Linked DNA regions of Homo sapiens: region 2 is linked to region 1. Evidence: fine-mapped expression QTL. Tissue or cell type: amygdala. Region 1 holds a variant in brackets; the other region holds the start of a gene. All regions are shown on one strand. Distances are between the middles of the regions. Region 1 has its middle 5.3 kb from the start of RHOG. Region 2 holds the start of RRM1 (ribonucleotide reductase catalytic subunit M1).

Region 1 (2,908 bases):
TTCCCCAGGGAATCCCGAATCAACTGGGCAGCTATAGTTGGGTTGCTCTTAGAATACCAGGACTGAGGAAGGAGAACTTTCCCAGAGGGGCATTATGCCAGATGATGTGGGTACTACCACTGGGCTTAGAAAATGTCAAAGATGCAAAGCTGTCCTGGAGGCTAACGGGACAACTATTGTTCTGCCTGCCTGGGAGAAGGGACCCTCTTGGAAAATAGGGCATGGCCATTGTCCACACACCCTTCATCCATTTAGTTCCTTGAGAGAGTCAAGAACAAAAGATTGGCCAGATGTGGTGGCTCACGCCTGTAATCCCAGCACTTTGGGAGGCTGAGGCAGGCAGATCACTTGAGGTCAAGAGTTCAAGACCAGCCTGGCCAACATGGTGAAACCCCATCTCTACTAAAAATACAAAAATTAGCCGTCGTGGTGGTGCTCGTCTGTAGTCCCAGCTACTCGGGAGGCTGAGGCAGGAGAATGGCTTGAACCTGGGAGGTGGAGGTTGCAGTGAGTCGAGACTGCGCCACTGCACTCCAGCCTAGGCGACAGAGCATGACTCCATCTCCAAAACAAAAGAAAAAAAATAAAAAAAGAAAAAAGATCAGAGGTTGTGACTCTAGAACTTTGTTTAATTTGTCACCTCTTTTTAGTTCTTTCTGCTGTCTCCTGTCTGGCCCATCAAAGCCCACAAAATGGGATATTGGACTTGTTTTGGGGGGCAGCAATAAAGAGGAGTAATGAAAAGGAGGCCAGTCACAGGGGCTCATGCCTGTAATCCCAGCACTTTGGGAGGCCGAAGCAGGTGGATCACTTGAGGTTAGGAGTTCAAGACCAGCCTTGCCAACATGGTGAAACCCCATCTCTACTAAAAATACAAAAAAGTAGCCAGGCGGGTGGCAGGCAACTGTAATCTCAGCTACTTAGGAGGTTGAGGTAGGAGGATCGTTGGAACCCGGGAGGTGGAGGCTGCAGTGAGCTGAGATCGTGCCATTGCACTCCAACCTGGGCTACAGGCCAAAATTCCATCTCAAAAAATAAAAAATAAAATAAAGGCCACGCACGGTGGCTCACGCCTGTAATCCCAGCACTTTGGGAGGCCCAGGTGGGCGGATCACCTGAGGTCGGGAGTTCGAGACCAGCCTGGCCAACATGGTGAAACCCTGTCTCTACTAAAAATAGAAAAAGTTAGCTGGGCGTGGTGGTGCATGCCTGTAATTCCAGCTAATCAGGAGGCTGAGGCAGGAGAATTGCTTGAATCTAGGAGGCAGAGGTTGCAGTGAGCAGAGA[T/G]CGTGCCACAGCACTCCAGCCTGGGTGACTCTGTCTCAAAAAAAAAAAAGAAATAATGAAGAGGAAACTGTGTTCTACTCCTGAGGCTGGCTGAGAGAGGGAAGACCAAAGGATCAAGAGGAGCCCCAAGAAGGCTGAGTCCCCTGGAGCCACAGCAGAGGCAAAAGAGAATTCAGATTTAAGGGTAACCTAAAGGGGCTGGGACTGGGGCTAAGCCAAGACCCCTGTGGATCACTGGTGAGCTCCTGGAGCTGGAGTTCAGTGAGGAATAGGCTGGGAAGACCCCTTTGGAATCCTCAGGGCACTGGTGAGATCAGTTCAGGGCCTTTCTCCTCTCACTCTCTGTCCCCTCCTCTCTCAGGGAAACTAGTCAGCTTTAGCATTTTGACATTGAGAGAGAGGGAAGAATTAACCAAGGGCGGGGGGATACCTGAAAACATCAAGGGAGTGTGGAGAAATTAACTAATGTTTATTTGCTGTACCCTAGGGCAATTTACGAGGGCTCCACATGCATTATGTCGTTTAATACTCACAATCTCATGCAGCACTTGCCAGTCCCATTTTATTGTTTTTTATTTGTTAGTTTTTAGAGACAGGATCTCACTCTGTCACCCAGACTGTAGTGCAGTGGCATGATCATAGCTCTCTGCAACCTCAAACACCTAGACTCAAGTGATCCTCCCACCTCAGCCTAGCAAGTAACTGGGACTACAGGCATGTGCCACTATGCCCAGCTAATTTTTGTGTGTGTATGCAGATGGGGTCTTGCTATGATTGCCTAGGCTGGTTACAAATTCCTGGGCTCAAGTGATTGTCCCACCTTGGCCTCTCAAAGTGCTAGGAATAGAGGCATGAGCCACCACGCCCAGCCATTCCCATTTTAAAATGAAACTAAGACTGAGAAGTTGGCTCTGTTATATGCTCTTACAGTATTCTGTACTTTTTTTTCTGGAGAAATGTTCTTGCTATGTTGCCCAGGCTGGTCTGAAACTCTTGGGCTCAAGCAATCTTCCTGCCTTATCCCCCTGAGGAACTAGAACTGGAGACAAACACCACCATGCCCAGCAGCACTCTACTTTTGTATGATTACCTGTTTAAGGTCTATCTCCCTTACCAGTTATATCAGGGCAGTTTTCTCTACTTCATGATTGGCATGTAACACTATGTCTGGCACCAAGAAGATTTTCAATAAATATACATTGAATATTTATGAATATGGGAGATCTCATATGACTAATCAAAGGCCATACTGTGTTACAACCATCCTAATCTGTCTCCAAAACCTGTCTGTGATCTCTATTCTACCCCACCAAGTGCTTTCATATTATCTCACTTCTAAATGTCCAGGTTCAATGTCCTTGTCTCTCAGCTGCTTGTAAGCATACATGCACACCACCTACCAAGAACTCACCTATTCAGGGAAAGCTAGTGAGAGAGTAGAAAAAAGAAACAGCCCATTTGGGATTGTGCCCTCTTCCTACCCTCTTCAAGTCAGCATTTCTCCTCCTTCAAGAAGCCTTTACGGACAGCTCCACCTGTCCACCTGCTTCCCTTTCCTCTGGCCCTTCCCATACCTGTGCCACAAAAGTGTTTCCAAGTTACCTGGAGTCTGATTGTTCTA
Region 2 (2,829 bases), 250 kb before region 1:
TGGACATTGGCTGTAGTTAAACCAAATCAACTACCTGCTTATTCACAGCATTCATCGTGTCCTACATTTTGATACAACTATTTTCATTCATTCTTTAAGAATCTGTTCATGTCAGGTCCTGTGCTAAACGTGAACAGAAAAGTCTCCATCTTGCTTGTATTCCCAGCACTTTGGGAAGCCAAGGAAGGGAGGATGGTTTGAGGCCAGGAATTCAAGGCCAGACTGGGAAACACAGCAAGACTCCTTTACTACCAGAAATTTTTAAAAATTAGCCACTCATGGTGGTGCATGCCTATAGTCCCAGCTACTTGAGAGGCTGAGGCAAGAGCATCGCTTGAGCCCAGGACTTCAAGGTTACAGTAAGCTATGATTACACCACTGCATTCCATCCTGGGTGACAGAGCAAGACTCTGTCTCAAACAAGTCTCCATCTTTGAAATGTTCACAGCCTAGAGGACAAAATAGAAACAACCAGTCGATTAACCAGTATTTACTAAGTGCCTACAATTTTGAAATCATTGTATTGCTTTAACAAAGGCAAGTAGGTTCAACTCAAAACTTGTTCATACGTATCTCATGCGGTTGTTAAAAGTATGTTGCTCTTGTTTTTCCAACCCGATGAAGCCTGTTCCCAAGGCAGGGACTGTCTCCTCCTACAATCTCACAAAGCCAAGCAAAGGGCTGGGCACAAAGCGGGCACTTGGCAAGTCTAATGAAAAAGAACTGTTGAGAAAGAATACGAGTTCCTGACTCTTCCCAGTCCCCATCTTGTCAGAAGATGTCTCAGCCACCCTTCTCTGATTCAGCATCTCTTCCCATGAAGGGAAAGGAACTCGAGGGTGCTGTCTGTCTGGGATCTGTTTTTTCCACGCCACACTCCTATCCTCACCCCACAAAAGAGATCAGTAAACTGACAAGTGCCTACGGAGGGTAGAGAGGCCCCCTCCTTCTTTCCTAGCTGCCCCCCGACCCTGTGCCTAAGACAGCTCACCAACCCCACGGTTTTCAAATCAAACCGTATTGTCACCTATGGGTGACTTTGGGTCAGTCGGCGACACCTCGCTCTGAGCGTCAGTTTCCTCATCTGTAATAAGCTAATCATCTCTCAGAGGCTTGCAGGGAGGAATAAAATAGTGCCTGGCAAGTGCTCGGCGTACGCAGTCACTACTCGATACGGGGTAAGTGTTATCCTTTTGAAAGGCGGCAGGATGACAAAGCCGAGGGGGCGCAGCCTGAAGGCCCGAAGGAGGTTCGGGGCAGGCTGACTGAAGACAGAAGGCCGAGCGGGCTGACAGGGCGGAAGGCCGCGGCGGGAAATGCGGGAAAGGCGGGAAGCAGCGAAGGCGGGCGGGCGGTCTGGGCATCAGCTCCGGCGGCGGCAGCCCGCATCCCCTCACCTTCCTTCTCGCCCACCTCGTCCCCCCCTCACCTCGCTTGATCACATGCATCGCAGCTAGTGGCTGAGGCTCTGAAGGATCCAAGACTGGACTGCGGCTCTAAAGCGCCGGCGGGATCGAGAAGGTGACAGAGTGGGAAGGGTTAGGTTCCAGGCGCTGCTCAGGGGAAAGAACTGGAGTTGGAGCCAGACAGCACTTTCTTCAGAGCAGAGGCGCAACAATCCAAATCCCCTTCCCGCGCCCGCCACCCGTGACGCACAAAGGGGCGCGACGGGGTTCGAATGACGTTACTCGACGCTGCGGCCCACGCCCGGGGTAGGCTTCACAGACTGACAGGCGACGTGTAGCCGCCATGTTGAGTCTGGGCAAGACCCAGAAGACTACGCCTCTCCCATGGGCCCCATTGGATATGGACATGCCCGGCGGAAATGCTGCTCTCCTGCTACCATGTTTTGTGTGGGCAAGCCGAGTTCGGGACCCTCGGGGCCCTGGCGTAGCACCTAGAGCCCGCTGGGTCAGGCGCCGCCCTCTCACCTGCGCGTCTCCGCCGGAGGAAAGGCGGTTAATTTATTTTTGAAATAACAAAACCTAACCGGCGGGAACGTTTTTCTTGCTCTGACATTTATTATAATAATACTAACACTGCCGTCCGCTGTGGGCTCCAGCCCAGGCTCCACAGCCGTGGGCAGCTTGGAGCCCCAGGGCTTTTAGATCGGCCAGAGGACTGACACTCTGGAACTGGAAGAAAACCGCGCAAGGCCGATGGCGTTTGGATTTTATCCTGACGCAAATCAGAGCCCTGAGAGAATTTTAAGCAGGGCAGGGTCAGTACCCATTTGCTTTTAGGGTTCTTCAGTGGATGGTGGCAGAGACAGGGTATTTGCCTTGTGGAGGTAGGATGGACTTGGTGACTTAGAGTGGAGAATAAGAATAGATGAGAACCGTAATATGTAAGGCTGGTGTAGAAGCTTCTGATTTGGGCTACCCAAAGCGATCTTTATGAAATTTCATCTGTGGCATCTTTTCCCTAAAGCCTTTTCGTTGGTTTCTCACTGCCCTCCAGAAGCTGCCCAGGCTCCCTGTGAAGTAATTTCAAAAATCATGGAAAGTCGTAAGTGAGCCTGTAATTGCAGCATTTTGGGAGGCTAAGGCGGGAGCATCATGTGAGGCCAGGTGTTGAGATAAGCCTGGGCAACATAGTGAGACCCCATTTCTACAAAAAATAGAAAAAGTAGGCCAGCGCGGTGCTTCACTCCTGTAATCCCAGCACTATGGGAGGCCAAGGCGGGCAGATCACGAGGTCAGGAGTTCGAGACCAGCCTAACCAACGTGGTGAAACCCCCCCGCTGCTAAAAATACAAAAAGTAGCCAGGCATGGTAGCACGCGCCTGTAATCCCAGCTACTCAGGAGGCTGAGGCAGAAGAATCGCTT

What was found. PIP is the estimated chance that this variant, and not a neighbour inherited with it, causes the effect. A credible set is the group of variants that fine-mapping cannot tell apart.
Region 2: RRM1 starts here. The variant in region 1 is the best candidate, but not a certain one, in a credible set for the expression of RRM1 in amygdala (GTEx, PIP 0.79).

What each region holds. Positions count from the first base shown.
Region 1 is chr11:3,844,769-3,847,676 of GRCh38, reverse strand. No RefSeq gene overlaps it. Among named protein-coding and RNA genes, the nearest start is that of RHOG, 5.3 kb to the right of the region's middle. The variant T/G (reference allele first, on the strand shown) is at 1,288.
Region 2 is chr11:4,093,632-4,096,460 of GRCh38, reverse strand. RRM1 (ribonucleotide reductase catalytic subunit M1) reads right to left here and starts at 1,662. Exons shown (of 19, transcript NM_001033.5): 1 at 1,430-1,662. The coding sequence starts at 1,448. RefSeq lists enhancers at 1,433-1,902, 1,963-2,032.